Regions from separate parts of the Homo sapiens genome. Here region 1 is linked to region 2. Evidence: fine-mapped expression QTL. A gene starts in region 2. The other region holds a variant in brackets. All regions are shown on one strand. Distances are from middle to middle.

What was found. PIP is the estimated chance that this variant, and not a neighbour inherited with it, causes the effect.
Region 1: its variant is fine-mapped to the expression of NCAPD3 in whole blood (TOPMed, PIP 0.98).

Annotation. Positions count from the first base shown.
Region 1 is chr11:134,146,942-134,157,702 of GRCh38, reverse strand. It overlaps JAM3 (junctional adhesion molecule 3), which reads right to left. Exons shown (of 9, transcript NM_032801.5): 7 at 9,027-9,156; 8 at 8,885-8,939; 9 at 5,702-8,557. The coding sequence ends at 8,522. It overlaps NCAPD3 (non-SMC condensin II complex subunit D3), which reads left to right. Exons shown (of 35, transcript NM_015261.3): 32 at 608-685; 33 at 4,340-4,414; 34 at 4,503-4,563; 35 at 4,651-7,590. The coding sequence ends at 4,759. It overlaps SNORD153 (small nucleolar RNA, C/D box 153), which reads left to right and starts at 6,340; the gene lies at 6,340-6,415. The variant G/T (reference allele first, on the strand shown) is at 3,739.
Region 2 is chr11:134,218,036-134,227,929 of GRCh38, reverse strand. It overlaps NCAPD3 (non-SMC condensin II complex subunit D3), which reads left to right and starts at 3,963. Exons shown (of 35, transcript NM_015261.3): 1 at 3,963-4,067; 2 at 7,204-7,358. The coding sequence starts at 4,004. It overlaps VPS26B (VPS26 retromer complex component B), which reads right to left and starts at 3,259. Exons shown (of 6, transcript NM_052875.5): 1 at 2,585-3,259. The coding sequence starts at 2,807. RefSeq lists enhancers at 2,373-2,522, 2,623-2,682, 3,473-3,522 and a silencer at 2,883-3,352.

The DNA.
Region 1 (10,761 bases), 71 kb after region 2:
CCTCCAGCTATTCTGTTCCTCTTACACACACGTGTTTTGTTTTGTTTATGGAATTGTGATCTGTGCGTGCATTGTTTTATGACCTGTTTCCCTGCATTCTTAAGTCAGATGTAGTAGATGTAGTAGACAGCTTCCATGAACTTTTCTTTCCAACCTTTGCTTTCAGTGGCTTTATAGCATTGTGGCTGTGGAAATAACTGATTTATTACTATCCTGTTCTTTGAAATGTTGATTTTCAATTTTTCCATACAAATACTATCACAGTAAACATCCTTGTACATATAGCCTTGTATGTATGTAATCCTTGGGATTAATTCCCAGCAGTCAAAGGCCATGGATATTTAAAAACTTTGGATAGTGTCAAACTGTCCTCTATCACTTATGCCAAGTTAGACTCTTTTATTTTTTTGAATCCTAATGAGAATGGACATTTTTTCTCATGTTTATCATTTATTTGTATTTCTTCCTGAATTGCCTCTTTATAAGAAAATTGTAAACACTAGTGATTTTGACTTTACGTCTTGCAGATATGTTTTCTCATGTGGTTGTTTTGCTCTTCGTTATTGTTTGGGGGTATTTCTGGATAGCAGCACCTTTTCTGTTCTAGTGTCTTCATACAGTTTGGAGCAAGAGTCGAATGGCGAGATTGAGCACGTGACCAAGCGGGCCATCAGCACCCCCGAGAGTGAGTAACTGATCGGAACACGTGGGCTTCTCCTCAGTCTCTCCTGCATTCGTGATGTGTTTGCTAGAGTCGCAGTAAAACTCCTTCCGGTGCAGGATAGTTCTGATGGTCAGAACCATGAGTGCATTGCTGAGGTGGAGTATTTCACAGTGACCACGGTCGCTTGATCCATGAGCACTGACCGAGTATGTTGTTCCAGTGTCGTTACATTCAGTCAGTCAAACACCACAGTGGCCCGCGGAGCAGACAATGCCGTTGAGGCACAGGTAGGTTGGGTGACTGACCCAGTGGTGCCTTCTGGAGGCGGCCCTCCGTGTCTCTGGGCTGTCCGGGTGCACTGGGCGCTGCTGGGTGGGCCTGCTCCCAGGGCGGGCAGACGTCAGCACCAGCAGGTACCATGCACGCTCTGCAACTGCCAAGACCAGAGACCCGGGGACCCCTGCTCGGAGCCTGTGTCTCATTCCCCTCCATGTTTTTTCCTACTGTTTGTGCTTTTCCTTTGATTTCAAAACAGAGGTGAGTTAGGAGAGTTGAGTATTCTTTTCCTATTATCTTGTGTGATAGCTTCATATTGTGTCAAACCTCATAAAAACCATTATTTTGAGAAAACTCTTACAGGAAGAAGAAATGCTTCCTGTCCTAAATCTGTGGAGTAGTGGCTAGGCCCTGCCGCCGTGTCCCTGTGTGCCCCTCGCTCTGCGCCCGGCTGTGCACAGTGCCCTCAGCAAGCTGCATCCAGCCCCGCTCGTCCCTGGCCATTCCACTCCTCACTGTTTCCACAGACCACAGTGCCTGGAACCTGGGAGGTGTCAGAGATCTCCTCCCGGAGACTTCTGGGAGGGCAGAGCTGGGCGCTGAGCCCAGGCCTTCTGGTCCCAACTCTTGTGCCCCTTCTCCAGCCTGTCTCCTAGTCCTGACTGCAGGGGAAGATGAGAGCGTGCTAAGGTGCTCTTCCTGGTAACAGAGCAGCAAGGTGTCCTGCCGTTCGTTTAGTCACTGCTTCAGTCAGCTCATGTGTGTGGAGCACCTGCTGTATTCTAGCTACTTGCTTGTTTGGTTCTGTCACACTGATGCTGTGATCTCTTAGAATAGTTAACAGGTTAGAGGTAATTTTCATCCAGGTCCCCCTTTGAAGGGAGTTTATCCCACCCCCACCCTCAGACGACAACCGAATCATGACGGCATTTGTCATTAAAGGCAGTGGGTAATTTGGGATCCTGCGTCGTGGACAGGTGCGATGTTCTGTGTGTTAGAGCTTGCTGTGTGTTCGATGTTCCTGGCTCAGGAGTGCCAAGAGCTTCTATTTTGGCAGTGAGGTGCCATATGCTGAAGAAACGGGGAGAACGCATCTCATTTTCGTTGTGCTCATCCTGAGTCCCTGATGTCAGTGTTGGGTTGTTTCCTAGCAGCTCGTGTTTCTCCACAGGGCAGCCTGGCGTGGAGGGTTCATGCCGCCCTCATCTGCCTGTGTGGAGCCACGCTTTGTGCTGGAAATCAGGCGCCCGGTGTCATTGAGTTGGTAGAGTACTTGTTCTTGCTCCAGGCTCTTGGACATAATATTCCTGCTGATGCAGTCTCTGTCCGTCTCTCTTTATACTGAACCAGGAAGAAATGCCTGGAGGTCTCCCCTTCCTGGGAGAACTGTTAGATAGTTTAAAAGCACTCAGTTCTGTTTTCTCTGTGGTTTATACGTCCAGATTCTTTTTGGCAACTTTTAGTTTAGGTGGGGGAGACTGTCAGGAAGTGTCTCAGCTCTTCAAAGCTGGCAGGAAAGATGCCACCCAGTTCAGCACCAATTCACAGTGGCTTTGCTAAATGGAAATGAAAATTAGTCAATTTTCAGAGCGAGGATTTTAACTGAAAATCTGTGGGGGTTTTAGCAAGTCCCTGTTACTGTTACCATTCGGGTGGCACAGACGCTGCTGCCTTCGATTCTACGCACAGTGCATGGGGGACGTCAGAGCCCCCGCACCCGGGCTTCTGTAAAGATGGGAGACTAATTTCCTGGAGTGCATATGGGCTTCCAAACAGGAAGAGCAGTGTGTGTGTCAGGAAGGGAATTTCATGTGACAGCACAAGGAGAGACTTCACCGAAACAGAATAAGCAGATCTAGCAGTGATGAGGAATTCTCTACCATCGTCTATTAGTGACACTCAAGTAGCCATCGGGTACACAGCTGCAGTGCGCTGATGAGCTTTGAACTGTAAATGGGAAGACACAGTCCATACTCAAGACACCAAGTGGAGAACGGGGAGCGCTCTGAAGCTGCCTCCTCGCATGTGCTTGCAGAAGGGCAGCAGGTTCAGTGGTACCAGCAAGCAGCTGCCCAGCCCGTGCTGTTCCCGGGAGTGTGCTGGTGGCAGCTTATGCACTGGGTACAGCACCACCCAGGAGGGGCGAGGCTGCACCACCCAGGAGGGGCGAGGCTGCACCACCCAGGAGGGGCGAGGCTGCACCACCCAGGAGGGGTGAGGCTGCACCACCCGGGCCTCCAAGACAGGGTGGCATGTGTAGGCAGATGGGGCGGTGGGGGGGGGGGTGCAGAGAAGCATAATGTGCAGACAGGGCCTGCTGAGGAAGAGGACGCAGGAGGGTGGACGTGTTTGTGCACGCGTGCACCTGAGCCTAACAGGTGAGTCTGTAAAGGCAGCTTGGGACCAGCTGAGACTGAGGGTGGACTTCAGGCTCTCCTAGGAACACAGCGATTGAGGTGTCTTGAAGCAGGGCAGTAAATTTACCAGCTTCTTGATGAAACATAACTCCAGTGATGCAGGGATGATACTGCTAATAAATGACAGTGGCTGCTAACATCTCTTGAGCACTGCCCTTGCAGCCAGCACGATGCTAAGCACTCAACGTGGATAACCTCATGTAGTCCTGGCAGCCCCCCAATGAGGTAGCTATGTTTTTATACCCACTTAAGAGATGAAGAAACCTGAGGGTCTCAGAGCAGCTCACACAGCTGGTGAGACACTGAGCCAGAATTCACACCCAAGCTGCGGTGGAATCTGCTCAACTGTGTTCTCCTGTTCCTGAGGGCAAACTGGAGGGG[G/T]TTCATTGCGGGTAGGTGCCATGAACAATCAAGGGCGAGGGGGGAGGTGGACTGAGCCGCTCCCAGTGTGGCACGACGGGACAGGATGAGGCGGCGACTGGAGGTAGAAGGGACAGGACTTGGCTGCTGATTCCATGTGGAGGAGCTGCTCACGGTGCCATATTTCCAGCGCGCATGCTCCAGTCACTGGCTGGAAACCAGCAGGCACGCGTGGAGGTGCAGAGGCAAGGAGTTGAAGTGTCCTCAGGGAATCTGGGTGAGCCACAGTAGGAGGTGTAGTAAGTGGGACAGGGCGGTCACCGGGACAGGGGCAATGATGGAAGACGGCGGGAGGGAAGCCAGAGGCGTGAACAGTGAGGCCCAGGGGCCAGCCGAGTGCCTGAGGGCTGCGGGTCAGAGAAGGGGGTCAGAGAGACGGAAAGGAGCATCCCCAGGAGGGGCCCTCAACACTGCCAGGCCCTGGGACAGGGTCCAGTGGAGGTCTGAGGGCCGCCGCTGGGACACTGATGTGGACACCCTGCCTACGTCCCACGGACAACTAGAACAGAGACCTCCGATAGACCACGCGGCTTTCACTCAGTGGTGTCTCCTCTTTATGCAGAGAGCATCAGTGATGTCACGTTTGGAGCAGGGGTCAGTTACATCGGGACACCACGGACTCCGTCGTCAGCCAAAGGCAAGTTCTTGGTGTCCTTCTGGGCTGATAGATGCACTGCCTTTGAGGTTCTGGGAAAGCTGAATGTGTTTGTTTGACTCCCTTTTAGAGAAAATTGAAGGCCGGAGTCAAGGAAATGACATCTTATGTTTATCACTGCCTGATAAACCGTAAGTTTAGCAGTGTTCCTTTTGAGGTGGATGTTTCTGTCAGGGTTTTTCTGAGTTCCAGAATGACTGCACATGTCCTTTCCCTAGGCCCCCACAGCCTCAGCAGTGGAATGTGCGGTCTCCCGCCAGGAATAAAGACACTCCAGCCTGCAGCAGGAGGTCCCTCCGAAAGACCCCTCTGAAAACAGCCAACTAAACAGCGCCTCCCACCAGTGTCCAGGCAGGCAGGAGCCCTTGAGGAAGCAGTCTCGTGTCCTCCGTGTGAAGGCAGCTGGATCACTTCCCGCAGTCCTTGGGCAGCGCTTTGCTGTGGAACACGAGAGCTCCTCCTCAGGGGCCTGGCACTCACCTTCTATTCTGTATGATGTATTTGGTTAAACACTGTCAAATAATAGAGATGTGCCAGATTTAGATTTTCTTACCCTAATCTGTTTAATATTGTAACTTTATTCCATTTGAAAGTGTCAAGCCCATTCAGATAAGCTATAATCTGGTCTTTAAGGAACACAACTTTAAAACTGCAGCTTTCTTTTATATAAATCAAGCCTCTGTTAACTTGAATTCCTTATAGTACATATTTTCCCATCTGTAATGACGAAATTTTGATTCTAATATTTTTTCTATTATTTATAAGTGCAAATTTTTTAAAAAAGTGTACAGCTTTCTAAAAGTAATAAAGGTTTAGCATAAATACAGCCTTCCAGTAGTCAATAGGATTTTTCTGTTTTTAGAACAGAGCTCTTATTGGTAATCATTTTAATTTTACATAAAGCATGTTTGTTTGTTAGAGGAATGAAACCAAATCTTCCCTATTAGAAAAAAGATGATTGTCTTGAAGGGCAGTTCATCTGTGCCCAGGCAGAGGCGGTGTGCTTTCCCTAACAGACATGAACAGCATCCCTTCTTGGGAAAAAATGGCTTTGCAGCCTTCCCCAGAGCAGCACTGCCGATTTGTGCAGCCCTCTGTTAAGGGCTGCTCCCATGATGGGGGAACAGCTTGAGTCTCTTCTGTTAGCACTAGTGGGTAAACTGAATGCTATTTTTGTTCAACAATATCCAGAAAGAAATGCAGTTGGTTTGTTTTTTAATCCCAGTATTACAAAAGCAAAAGTACAAAGTGATGATGTGCGTTGGTTGGTTTGGGGGATGGGATGCCACTGAGATCTGCCCACTGCCATCCCAAGTGGGAACCGCAACACAGGTGGGCTCGGTGGCGGAGAGGCGCAGCACTGCTCTTGAGCACACAGGCTGACCTCCTGCCCAGCACTGACTTCCCTGGTGGATGGGTGATTGATAGCATTTTTAGTGTGCATGCCTAACCACTGAAATGCTAGGAAGAAGAGACAAACCCAACGTAAGAGCAAATAACAAAGAATGAAGCAATGTTTGGGTTTTTTTGAAGCTTTTATAAATGAGGTTAAACAAATGCCAAATTACGGTGTGTTAGTACAAGTCTGTAGCATCTGTGTACAGCAACATCCATCCAAAGGCAGAATCACAGCCTCGTATCGGCCTCGAGTCTTGAGTCACATTCATATCTTAAAATACACGAGTATTCCTTTTCCGTCTAGTCTCAGTTATAGGCAGCTACTTCCCAGACTCTACTTTCACTTCTCTCTACTTTTTCAGACCTGGTTCCCATGGCACTAGTGTAGAAGGTTTTAGGGTATAAGAAGAGGGGGCAATAAGGCTACCCTATCACTATGACAACCAAGAAGGAGGCTGGAGCGTGAATCCCCAACGCTGAGGGTGGGGAGCCATCCCTCTCTACCAAGGTGGCAATGATGGAGGGAACTTGCATGCTAAGCATCCAGGATGCCATGCAGCAGACACCAGGGAGCACTGAGCCACTGCTGGAGCATTTCCTGCCTCTGCCAGGCGGCCTGCGGCAAAGTGTTTCACATAACTAAAAAAAGTCAACACAGTCTCATGTATGCAATTAAAAAAAAGCTGTCAAAGTATAAAAAACCCAAGACACTGGAAGCTGAAAGACAAGGTGAGTAGTGAGAGCCATTCTCCAGGCACACAGTGGAGTGCTCCTTCTCAGCAGCTCCTTGCTTTACAGCACTTCAGTCCTGAGTCCAGCACGGCAGGGCATGTGAGGCTGAGAACACCTGCTCTTGAAGAACACAGGCTTCTGAGTGATGTTGCTAATGTCCCCCCACAAATGGGAGCAGTGTCTCCGGCGGATGAAAAATTTAAAGTCAAAATTAGAAAACTGCTTTTGATTCAGGCGTTTCACTTTCCTCCCCGCCAGGCCTTTCACCTGGCTGCTCCACCTGACGTTCTTTAAAAGGCTGGACTGGCCGCCACTCCATCATGGTTTGTTTTGAAATGCGACAGAGCCTGTGGCGTCTGGGTGCTTTCTCTGTGGCAAAGAGGAACAGTGGGATCCATTTTCTTTTAAAAATGTTATTGTACTTGACAGACTTGATTTCGCAATTGCCTTTGGCCTTAGACAATCTTAACAAATAATTAAACAAACTTAAAAAAAAAAAATAGCATTGGGGGCCCTATTTTGTGAGCCATCCATAACCAAAAAGAGGTCTGTTACAGGAGCCCAAAGCTGGGACGCTACATGGAAGACACCAGTGTCCCTGCAGTGCCCACCTGAGAGCTGTGCTGGATGAAGCAAGGGCCACGTGAGTAAAGCTCACTGGGACACAGCCACTGCCAGGGCCCAAGGATGGCAGGGCCTCCTGGCAGACAGCGAGGCAACAGTGAGCTAGAGCGGGGGCGCCTGGCGCAACCCCAGGAGCTGACTGGCATCTGTGTATGTACATCTGAGGGCTTCTGGGTGGCCTCTGGGTACAGACTGTCCTAGTCATCTCAGGAAGAGGCAGTTCAAAGCTAACCTGAGAGGTTTCTTTTGAAGAGATGCAAACTGATTTCAACATTGCTTAACTGGAATTTTTAAAGGTTTCCTAAGCAACTATGGTCTGATGTGTAGACAGTATGAGTTCCCTTGTGAAAAAGGCTAAAACTTGTGTGAGAAAAGGAACATCACAGTAAACTTCCATGAGAGGATTCCTTGGGTAAAATACTCTTAATTATTGATATTTTCCAATTTAACACTAGTAGCTTGGAACTTCTACCTTAAGTTGAACTTTTTTAAAAAAATAGGTTATTTAACATTGTATGACAATATATTTACAGTTTAAATAGAAATTTTCTTTTCAATAATCAAAATACATCCTTAGCAAAAATTTAGATGTAAAATTTTATAAAATAAACAAGACCCATAGAAAAGCATATTTCAGTACCATTTCAGACTTAGCCTAAGACGAAGGTTTTCCTTAAATCCTGACACCCTGTTGGACAAGCAGGGTTCCTCAGGCAAGATCCCTCTTCCAGCAACCAATTTACCTTCCTGATTTTGGTTGTTTTTACAAAATGCTGATCCAAAAAGCTTCTCCACAATGGACACTGCAACACCGATCAGCAGAGCCTTTAAGAAGAAACTGCGGTGGTGTCTGTGGGCCGATGAAGTAAGGCTGCTGTGTAAGAAGCCTTTTCTGGGTTCCCGCCGGGATGCGCTGCTGGTGCTGTCCAGCCACCTCGCCATCTCACATGGTGCTGTCGTGGCTGCTGAACGACCAGTGGTGAACATGCTGGCTTCACAGGGCCCAGCACGGGCGTTTACGTGAGCAAACTCTTTAAGATCACCCTAATACTCATGCGGGAATCAGGCCAGAAACAGATTAGGAACCCAACTCAGTGAACGCACCCAGTTTCGCTTCCTTGTGGTTATATTTACCGGGTCCATCTTGAGGAAAATTCTTCTATTCATGTGGCTTGTTAGAGTAAGAAGAGTAGTGGTCAACTTTGGCCAAAACGAAAAGCTTCTGAATGAGTGTCTAGCTCTGTCCGAGTGCATCAGCTCTCGCTGCCTTGACAGGAGTTTCTAGCAGAGGTATGTGCACGTGCGCTCTGTGCGCTCTCAGCCACACCGCGGGTCTCAGATCACAAACGATGACTTGTGTCTGAAGTCGCCCTGCAAAGCCAACACACAGTTAGAGCCATCAAGGGGCCTGGTGGCAAGCAGGGAAAAACACGGAGTAAGTCTAACATGGGCTAAATACAGATGGAATAATCATTCTTAAAAAGTACCATCACTAGCGCTTGCAAAGCACAAATCCCATTAGTGTGTGTGTGTGTGTGTGTGTGTGTGTGTGTGTGTGTGTTACTGTGAAGGGGCTGAGGAGCTCAGGAGCTGCACAATCACTCAGAAATCTTCCCAGGAGACCCGTGTGGTTTCCAAGGGGGAATGTTGTTTTCCCTGCTGGGTACACCTAGGTTTCCAGGTTTACTAAATGATTACCTCCTCGTCAGTGCGGATGTAGTTAACTCCATCTGGTTTCCCTGGGTTCTTGTAACTATGAGGAGAAGAGAGCAGTTTAGCAACAGGGTTGTTATATTATTGCCAGCTTGAACTTCCCTTTTTTCACATAAGGCAGGCTCACCTTTCTCCATCCTGTTTATTGTTGATGAAGTAGCCACGTCTGTATGCACAGCAGATGCCCAACGTGATCAGGGCCAGTACAGCAAGGACAACCAGAACCCCCCCAATAATTCCGCCAATGTTCAGGTCATCTGAAGAAAAGGAGGTTTGGTGGAAGCCATGATACACACTATCTGTTATTTAAAAAGGCCCTGGCCCTGCTGTGCCTCCTTCCTTCACCCCAAACCCACTTGCCCCCTGCCCCCTCAGGCCTACCCCAGCTAGAAGAGAGAACACTTACAATCCTTCTAGCCTAGAACATATAGGACACCATAACTCCTAACTTCACACGTGAAAAGTACTGAGACTTCTACAGTTGAAATGCAGTCGCACTGAAAAGTGTATTAAAGTGGGCTTGGCACTGTAGGCTTAAAAATCCTCTGGCTGAATGCCTGAGATTACTTATGGAGGAAATGGTTATGAGGACAAGATTAGGAGCCAGGATCCCAAGAAGAAAAGAATCCCTAATTTCCAGGGCCTCCCTTTGTTGCAGATTGCTGCGGGGAAGAAAGGTAGCTTCAAGCCTTAAAGAATCTGTCTCAAAAAACAAACAAGTAAAGAATCCTAGGTAAGAACTAGAGCTTTGTCTCTGCCGGCTGCCTGACCTCCGATCTATAAGCCCTCTGAGAGGAAACCCCCTGGAACCCTTTTCTCATGTCTATACACTGGGCAAAGGCACTGGGTCACTTTCATATGGGGCTCTGGCAGCCGTTCCTTCAAGCAAGCGACACATGGAAAACTATGCAGGGAATTTATCAACAAGAGCCAAGTAACTTGGAAGTTTTAAAAAAATCTCCTTTATCCTAGTGTATTGGTTCTCAAAGATGAATGTACACTTAAAAATCAACTTGCAGGCCGGGCGCGGTGGCTCACGCCTGTAATCCCAGCACTTTGGGAGGCCGAGGTGGGCAGATCACGAGGTCAGAGATTCGAGACCATCCTGGCTAAGGTGGTGAAACCCCGTCTCTACTAGAAACACAAAAAATTGGCTGAGCGTGTTGGCAGGTGCCTGTAGTCCCAGCTACTCAGGAGGCTGAGGCAGGAGAAAGGTGTGAACCCGGGAGGCGGAGCTTGCAGTGAGCCGAGATTGTGCCACTGCACTCCAGCCTGGGTGACAGAGCGAGACTCCATCTCAAAAACAAAAAGTAAACTTGCAATCGTTTTTTTTTTTTTTTTTTTGAGACAGAGTCTTGCTCCGTCACCGTCACCCAGGCTGGAGTTCTGTGGTGCAATCTCGGCTCACTGCAAGCTCCGCCTCCCGGGTTCAAGGGATCCTTCTGCCTCAGCCTCCCAAGTTACTGGGACTACAGGCGCCTGCCACCACACCAGGCTAATTTTTGTATTTTTAGTAGACACAGAGTTTTGGCATGTTGGCCAGGCTGGTCTTGAACTCCTGACCTCAGGTGATCCACCCGCCTCAGCCTCCCAGAGTGCTAGGATTATAGTGTGAGCCACCACGCCTGGCATGCAATTTTGATGTTAAAATGTCAATTCCCAAGTTTCATCACTAAAAAGTCAATAGGCTAAAGTAGGTCTGGGGCAAAACTGCAGGAGAAAACAACCCTAGAGCAGAGTTTCTCAAACGTGACACATGAGAAGAATCCTTCGGAACGCTTGTCTCACACACAGACATTTCTAGCATATGTCTGAGGTGGGCTCGAATCTGTATGTGAAACAGTGGTCCCAAATGGGTATCA
Region 2 (9,894 bases):
CTTATCAGTAGACAGGGCGATCTTCTTCAGGTAAAACAGGTACAGGAGGAAGAGCAGCAAGCCAGTGGGTGATAACTCAATTTGTGAAATGGAAACATTTTACTACAACTACCATAATTTTATAAAGGAACCCTCTATAAGGGTCATGCATGATCCCCTGGCATGCCCAACATTCTCACCAAGTGATGTTATTTTCCTTGCTTGGTAGCTGAGAAAGCCGAGGCCCAGAGAGTGGCTAAATTCCCCCAGTCTCATGGTCAACTCAGTGCAGGGTGGCCAAGGGCCCGGGAAGAGTTACTAGTGGAAGCAACAAAAGGTTCTGAGAAAATTCAGCAGGGATGATGGATGTCTCAGGAGTAAGGAGATAGACAAGAAATCAGGTGGGGCAGGAACAGCAAGCAGTTTCTTCAACTCCCTTTCATTTAGACCAGAGGAAGGCCTTGACACGGTTCCTAGAACAGCTAATTTCACACTGTCTGGGGCAGAAGACATTCTGGGTTATCTTTCACATACTGGTAAGGTACCACCATCTGGGAGTGATGGTATAGACACAGACTAAACATGCCTGCCAACACTAATTATTATTATGGAGCCAAAGAATCAATGCAATAACTTTAAAACTGCTACTAAAAAATACCTTGCTCAATAGGCAAGGATTTCTCGACTATTTACTATGCGTAGCATAATATGCTTTGGACTCATCCTGTTTATCCTGGGGTTCTTTGCTAGAGATGATTTTACCCTCCAGAGGATATACAGCAATATCTGAAGACATTTTTGTGGTCGCAAGTGGGGGATGCTACTGTTGTCTGGTCAGTAGAGGCTGGGAATGCTGCTAAACATCCCATGACAACATGCCAAACGATGCCAGACATCACAGTGCTGCTACTGAGGAACCTTGCCATCTACCCCACCATTGAACCCAGAAGCAGGAAAGCAGAAGGCATGGAACTCACTCTTCGGCCCCTTTTCTGGTACACTAAGACCTTTCATATTCTGGCTTTAAAATAACAACAAAGAGCTTCCTGTAAGATCAGCCAGTCTTCAACCTGATTTCATGTTCTTAAATACCAGAGGCAAAATGCTTGAGGCTGAGCAGTGAACCCAAGAGCCAGGCCACAAGGCCTCCTTTTCCCAGGGTTTCTCCTACCTGTGTCTCCGTGTTTCCTGCCTCTGTGAAAAAAAGACGGCAAATTCTTTGCTAAACTCTCAGGATAAGAGAGTTTAACAAAGATTCCCCAAGGAAGTCTCTAAAAACAGAGTTATGTATGCAGTGTGTGGTATCGGTATGGATTCTCTACCAGAGGTGTGTAGCTCACAGGGTATTTACTGTGATTCTACTCCTAACCTAACGACAAAAACAACTTATTTTAAAAGTACCCAAGCATTTTAATAATACACAAGAGTCTAAATAAGGCTTAGAATTGGAGACGACCCAGTCTTGACTGGGAGCTCCCCAAATCACTTTACCATTACTGCCTTTTACTGTCTAGTTCTTATTTGTTTATTTGTTTATTTTTTTGAGACAGGGTCTTGCTGGTTGTCACCCAGGCTGGAGTGCTGTGGTGTTATCACAGCTCACTGCTGCCTGGAACTCCTGGGTTCAAACAATCCTCCCATCTTAGCCCCCCGAGGAGCTAGGACTACCGGCAAGCACCACCACGACCAGCTAATTACAAAAAAATTTTTGGGGGTAGAGGCAGGTCTTGCTATATTGCCCAGGCTGGTCTCCAACTCCTGGCCTCAAGCAATCCTCCCACTTCAGCCTCTCAAAGTGCTGGGATTGTAGGCATCAGCCACTGTGCCTGGCGCTGTCTAGTTCCAATGATTAATAATCATGTTTAAAGCATTGAGAAACTCTGATCACTTAATTGTGGTTTTTAGAAACACCATTTCTTTGTCTTTAAACAGAAAATGTGGTAACTGAAAACTTGCATTCTAATAAAGAAGTCTAAGAAACGCAGCCTAGGTAGTCAGATTTAGACTGAAGATTATGGGTCTTCTTTCTGGAAACATGTACAAGCATAGGTAGTTCAGGGCTGAGGTGAGGTAAGAGAGAACTGGTTAGCTCTCTCACACCACATCTAAAGAGAAAAACGGGTTGGTGCGGGCTCTGGGAAGTGGGGCTCGGTGGACGAGCCTCACTTTGCGTCTGGCAGTTGCAGATGGCCGGGCGATGGGAAAGCCAGTATTGGCAGAGCGGTCTCCCCCTAACAAACCCACCTGCAGGCTATGGCCAGAGCACCTCACCCAGAAATCCTGGGGACAAGAAGCAAAGCCGAGTGCATGCCGGAGACAATGGGGAGAACCCATAGGCAAGGTGCCCATCCCACGAGGCACAGCAGGGCGCTTCCTCCCGCCCTCGCCGTCCCCATCTCCCTGGCAGCGCGCTGTCACTTTTGGCAGGGAGGACAGTAACGCAGGGGGAGTCGCCCACGGGCGGGACTTGTAGCTGAACCCCAGGCCTCAGACTGCAGTTGACAAGCGACTGTGACAGGCCTCGCCGGAGGAGCTGGGCCCTGAATCACCCTGCTCCCCGGCCGGCTGTCGGCGCTGGGGGAGGGGGTCCCGGGGGTCGACTCACCGATCTGCCCGATGAACTCGATCTTGATGCCCTGGTGCTCCAGCCGCTTGTTGGGGTTCTTGAGGGCAAGGCTCACCTTCCCGGAGACCGTCTCCCCGTCGTAGAAGAGGAAATATTTCTCCTTCTTCCCGTCCTCCGTCTTGTGCTCGGCCCGCTTCCTACTCTCTGCATCGTTCAGAAGGATTTCCACCTCCACGCTCTGCCCGAAGCCGAAGAAGCTCATCGCACCGCCGGGCCGGGCGGGTCTCGGTAAGGACCGCTCCCTCGCACCGGGGCGCGGGCTGCCCTAGGTAAAGAAGGCCAGAGGGCCCGATGCGCGAGCGCGCTCGGCCGCCGCGGGGCTGCCTGGCTCCGCCGCTGCCGCCGGGCAGTGGGCGCCGACGGACAGCCGGCTCCACGGGGGAGGGGCACGGCCGGGGGAGGCTGGCGGCTGCGGGCTGCGGCGCCCGAGCAGCAATGCACCGAGGAGCAGTGCCCTCGGCCGAGCCAGTCCCAGCCAGTCCCGCGGCCGGTGGCAGTGGGCGGGCGAGGGTCGGCCGTGCAATGCTGCGGGGGGCAGCCGCACAGAGCCGGGTGTGGGTGGCCTGCGCCTGCCGGGTGGGGTCCAGCGCCGAGCAGCGCTGCGAGCTGCCCAGCCTCCGGCGGTGCAACGCACCGAGGCGCTTCGGCGGCTCCGGGCGGGGGAGGGGGCGGGCGAGCTCCAGCCCGGATGCGCTGGAGCAGCGGCGCGCAGGCGCACCCCCTAACGCTCCTGGGACTCCCGGCAGCCCGGAGGAGAGCTCGCTGCGCATGCGCAGGGAGAGCGCGGCCGGCGCTCCAGCGGTCGGCATGGCAGCTGCTACCTCGCTGGGACAGGCTCTGGGCCCACGCGTGCCGCGCAGTCCCTACAGAACTGCAGTTGTCTTGTCTTCTCGGAGTGCTTTCGGCTACTTTTCCCTTATTACTTTAGCTCGATACACGTTGGGCTGCCTTTCACATTCGGATATTACGCTGTTCGAGTGCTGACGGGAAAGGCAGCCCTTTGACACGCACGCGAAATGTCGCCTGACGAGGGCAAAGGTGACAGTTACTACCGGAAGTACCCTATCTCAGATACCCTTTAGATTTTCCCCCATTGAAGAAAAACGAGGCGGGAAAAACGCTGTTAGGGTTTAACTCAGGCCCTGGCTCCTTCTCGAACGAATTAGCGGAACACCCGCAGGAGCCTTGTTTGGCTTCCACTTTTCGGCCCGCCCAGTTCTCTGAGCGTGCGGCGGACGACGCCGGTGATTGGTTGAGCGAATGGAAACGGCTCGGCGCGGTGGTTGGCCAGTGGGAAATTCTGTACGTTGTGATTGGTCCACAGGAACGACTCGGCGCGCGCGCGGGAGCGAGCTTTGAAAGTTGAGCACGGCGGCGGCGAGCCGGTGCCCTGGGATCATGGTGGCGTTGCGGGGCCTTGGTAGCGGCCTGCAGCCCTGGTGTCCGCTGGATCTTAGACTCGGTGAGCAGATGCAGCCGGGAGGCCCGGGGGCCAGGGCGAGGGTCCTATGCGTCCCCGACGATGCCTAAGCCCGGGCCGGGGTGCCGGTGGGGGCGGGGTGGGGGCGCCCGGCTGTCGGCGGTGCCTGGGGTCCCCAGGGCCGTGCCACGCCAGGATTGCGGCTAGCCAGGTTTCCCGTGGGGGCTCAAGCCGGCCAGGCCACCCTTAGAATAAGCGAATGTTGGCCAGTCTCTTCTAGCGCCTGTGCATCTGTTTTCTCGGCCTTCCCCTTCTTCCTGTGCGTGTCTTCGTGCACCTATCTATTCTTACCTATTAAGATGGTTTTAAATTGCAAATCTCTTTCTTCCGCCAGACTTATTTCTTGAACTTCATGTTCATAGGTTCCACTGGATGTCTCACATGCAGACATCATCAAACGTCACATGAGTGAAAATGGGATTCCCAAAGCCTGCTAATGGCACCATCCAAGCCACCAACCCAGGAGTCATGGCATTTCTGCTTCCCCTTTCATGCCCACTACCACTGTCCTGCCTCTGAGGTGTCTCAGGGCAGCCCCGCTCCATTCCTGATGCTGCTGCCTTCATCATAGCCTCGAGCAATTGCAGGAGTATTTTAGCTGCTTTCTGATGTTAACTGTGCCAGCCCATCCCCCACACTTTTGCAGAACGACTTTTGAAAACACAGCTTTGAATGTGTCAAGCCTGTACACCTTTAATGTTTCCCCTTTGTTTCCTAAATAAATGACCACATCCTTGGCATGCTTTATAAGAGCTGCCATTCTCTCCAGTTTGATTTTCCAAGAGCATAACCTTTGGAGTCGGACACACTTGGATTGTTCCCTTGGCTCTACCCCATAGCATCCATGTATTACCGTGCAGGTTGTTTATCCTTGCTAAACCCCTGTTTTCTGATCTGTCAAATGGGGAGTACAATATCTACCTCACAGGGGTTTTTGTAAAGATAAATTTGTACTTGCCACATAATAACTGCTGAACAGATACTAATACCCACAAGCAAACACTGTAACAATTTTGTTCATTTAGAAACACTTTAATTTCTTTCCCTTTGTGTGCTTTGTTACACTGTGCTTGCTGGGAGGCACTTTTCTGCATTTATTTGCCTGGCAAAACTCTTACATTCAGGTCCAATTGAAGAATCATCTTATTCCTCTCCCTCCTCCCCCAGTACTATTCCCTATTAAGCTCTGTAGCATTTTACATTTTACATATCTATTATTTTAACACTCATCCATAGCAAAAATAATAAATACCATCTATTGACTGTTTTTTATGTGGCTAGCACATTGTTAGGGCCTTTATACACATTATGTTTCACAAAAATCCTGTATTTCCAATGATGAAGGAGAGACTAATTATGTGTAAGTGATCAAGTCAGGATATTTGCCTCGTTCTGACTCAAAATTCAGTGGCCTCTCTTCTATCATAGGCTGCTTTTTTTGGTATCCTAAGTGTGAAATGTTGAGATCTTTGTGGACAAGAACCCTCTAGTATTCATCTTTATATCCCTAGAAGTATAAGTGGCTTCCCTAGTATTTTCTCAAAGTGTTTGTTGAGTGAATAGGTGATGTATTTCTTCCTCTTCTTCCATCCTAAGTGAAGTAGCAGAGCAGAAGTTACCTGCATTCGACAGCTGAGAAAATAGGTAGTGAGAGATTTGAATAGTGTAAAGATACTGAGGGAAAAAGACTAACTCAGTGTCTCCTATACTCTCACTCAACAATCAACACTGAAGACTTCTGTGACCAAATGGTAGATAACAGGGCCAGTTACTGCCATCCAAATTAGATTTGATGGTATTTACAGTAGGGAACTGTCATAAGCAAAACCAAAAGAAGGAGTGAGATAACTTTTGCTGTGGTCTATAATGACCTTTAAAACATTACTGGAAATTTGGAAAGAAACAATTGTATTTTTCAGATCTTCTTTCAGGCAGCATATTCCATGTCTTTGGAAGGAATGCTGTGCATAGCCACTTAGGGTACAGAGACCCCCTCCTTCAGGGTCAAGTTCAAGTGACAAAAGATGATGACCAGATTGTATTCTAAGGATGGAACTAGTTGAGTGTAAGGCCTTTCATTTTCATTTGCCGAGTGCAGTGTAATGCTCCCATCTCTGTTTTTTCCTTATTTATACCTTGCCCAACTTCTCTAAATCAGTGGTGAACAAATACTTTTAATATTAATTTGAAGGAACACCTGATTAATAATTTGAGATGTCCACATTTCCATCTAGTCCTAATTTTAGTTTGGGAAAGTGACAATGACAACACTGAAGAAATATAGTGTATTAGAAAAGAATGGGAAGGGGGGATGGAGGGATAGGGGAGGGATACCATTAGGAGAAATACCTAATGTAGATGACGGGTTGATGGGTACAGCAAACCACCATGGTACGTGTATACCTATGTAACAAACCTGCATGTTGTGCACATGTACCCAAAAACTTTAAGTTAAAAAAAAAAGTTTATCCAAAAAAAAAAGAAAAAGAAAAGAATGGGAAGATTTAGAGTTAAGAGAGATTGGTGGAATCCAGCCAGCGTGCTGTCTTAATACCCCTCCTCTCAATGTACATTCTTTCAATCAGTGTGTTTTAAAGTCACCAAGTATTCCTGGGAGTCTGAATCTGGGTTGCCTCTTCTATTTTAAACTTCCTGGAGAAATTATATATGTTTTTTAAATGCTACATGATTGTCCAAGGGCCCAATAAAGTGCTCTATATTTTATTTCCACTTATTAACTTGGTTATGATATTTTCACAAAGGAACCTCGTGGGCAATCTGATTAACCTCTGTTTCTTCTCTAGATTGAACATGTGGGAAAGCCTGATCACTGAATGTTTTGAAGTGTCCTTTCCCAAAACTCTTGTATCTGAAAAGTATTTCCTCCTTTATATTTTTAGAAGATGATTAGCTTAATAGTCAGTGTCAGTTGTGATTTAAGATTCTCTTAACCTTTTCTGGTTTTCTTTTATTATGCTACACCTATGTTATTAAAACAAGTTAAATGTGAATCGTGACTAGTAAACTTTTCTCCTCTTGAACACACCTGGAATCTAAAGGTGACTAGTTTTTTTACTTGTTACAGAGTACTTACACATTTCATTGCATTTTCCCCTAGAATGGGTTGACACAGTGTGGGAACTGGATTTCACAGAGACTGAGCCTTTGGATCCCAGCATAGAAGCAGAGATCATAGAGACTGGATTGGCTGCATTCACAAAACTCTATGAAAGCCTTTTACCCTTTGCTACTGGAGAACATGGATCTATGGAGGTAAAAATATAAAAACAAACTAGCCAAAGTTTGGTGTTAGAAGTAGAAGATGAAAGTCATTATTATAATCTGAAGCTTAGCTTTCTTGGTGTACAGTTCACAGGGAGTACAATATGAGTAACATAAAGAATGTGGTTAATTTATTGGAATATCCTAAGAGCTTTCCTCCAAAAGCTTCAAGGTACTTGTCTGATTTTTTTTTTTTAAGACACGACTGTTTTTTACAATAGCAAATTAAAGGAAAAGTATAAGGCCGGGTGTGGTGTCTTACGTCTGTAATCCCAGCACTTTGAGAGGCTGAGGCTGGCCAGTTGCTTGAGCTCAGGAGTTTGAGACTAGCCTGGGCAACATGGCAAAACCCCATCTCAGAAGGAAAAAAAAAAAGGAAAAATATAAAGGCAAAAACAAGAAAACTAGACCAAGGAAAATGCAAATAACAATTCAGACATGCCTTAACCTTAACTTTAAGAAAATCTGCGACCAGGCATGGTGGCTCATGCCTGTAATCCCAGTACTTTGGGAGGCCGAGGTGGGTGGATCACGAAGTCAGGAGTTCAAGACCAGCCTGACCAAGATGGTGAAACCCCATCTCTACTAAAAATACAAAAATTAGCCGGTTGTGGTGGCGGGCTTCTGTAATCCCAGCTACTCGAGAGGCTGGGGCAGATAATTGCTTGAACCCAGGAGGCGGAGGTTACAGTGAGCCGAGATCACGCCACTGCACTCCAGCCTGGGCGACAGAGCAAGACTCTGTCTCACAAAAAAAGAAAATCTGATATTATTAAACTGAGGAATGACTAGTTGAATTAACAGGTTTGTCCAAACAGTTCCTGTAAATATTGAGTTCTATCCAATGCATAGAAATATAAATTATTATTAATATTTAGGTTGTTAGTTTTCAAAAAAAACCAAAGGGTTGGGAAACAGAACAAAAGCTAATTGGATATTAACATCTCTGAAACATTTAAATGAACAAAAAAAAATTCACTTCCAAGTTTCACATCACAAAATTAAATCATCTAATTAAACATTCCTTCAGCATAACACTAAGCACTGCCTTAAGTACCTGAGTTGACAGAGTGGGGATTACGATACAATCTCCCTAGGTTGAGGTCCTCCCCAGGGACCTCAGGGAGGAAGAGTGGACATTTGAACACTAGCCAAAGTAGGTCTAGCAGCCACATGCAGTTGCAGGGGGTGGAGAGTTCAGTGCCACTGTGCATTTGGGCGCCTGGAAATATTCTACGAACCACACTGTGAAAAATGCTCCAAGAGAGGTGCGGATTTGTTGCATAGGGTGTGAAAAAGGGAGCATGGTAGGGTTGGGAAAGTTCCAGAAAGAAAGTGGCCAGCAGCGAATCTTCACAGATGACTAGCAGAAGCTTGGGTTGTAAGGCAGTCCTAGTGAAGGAGCCACCCAATGGGAACACGCAGGAAGTGTCAAGAGGCATACAGAAAAAGTGTGGTGGAACGGGATGGTAAGGTAGAGTAAGGGTAGGTCACGGGTAGCTTTACGTGAGGTTCAGCAGTGGAGTTTGAACATGTTTGGTAGAGTGTGTATGAGGTTTTGTTCTAAGCGTCCTGCATGTATTAACTCATTTAATCCTCAAGCAGCCTGTGTGAAAGAGGTTACAGTGGGCAATAGATAGGTAACATGAATAGATCTGTTTTAAGCAGACGTTCTTGACAGTAGGTGGACTGAAGTGGGAAAAATTGTGTGCAGGGAGAGCCCTTGGGAGACTGTATTGGTGATCCAGGTGTTATGAGTAATAATGGCATGATCCGGAGTTACAATTTTGGGAACTGGAAAGGAAGACTAAAAACTAGGGACATTTTTGGAATTAGAATTAATAGGGCCTTGTGAACTAGGAAGCCCTTTTGAGATATCTTAAAAACATGGTGTGAAGTGCTAAACTGACTGGGCATAGGGAATTAGAAAAAGAAAGAAGTCAGTGATCCCCAGGGTTTCAAAACTAGGAAGATGATGATATTGTTAACCAAGGTGGGGAATAAGGGAAAAAGAGCAAGGTCAAATGGAGAAACAGTTCTGTTTAGACTTCTGAACTTGAGATTCTGTCAGGAGATCCTTGGGAAGTTTAACAGGTAGTAGAAATGTGAGACCAGGAGAGAGAAGAGAGTTCTTTAAATTGAGGTATGGGTTGAAGCACAGTGATGCATGAGATCACCGAGGGTGAGAAGCAGCCAGGACAGAAATGGAGAGCTGATTGGACGGGGTCTGCAGAGGAGCAGTCACATGTAGGGAGTGCAGGGTCACTGACGCCCAGACTAGACAGCAGCCATGGGATCACATGGGGCCAAGGTGACCCCATATGCAGAGCCCTGGTGAGCAGATGGTTTAGGGTGATCGATCACCCTCGTGTGTGAAGTGGAGGTGCAGGTGGCATTAGGAATGAGGATGTGACACTGTAAAGTTAGGAGATGATTTCTTCCCCCCCCCCCCTTTTTTTTTTTTGAGACCAGGGTCTTGCTCTGTCACCCAGGCTGGAATGCAGTGGCACAGTCAAAGCTTACTGCA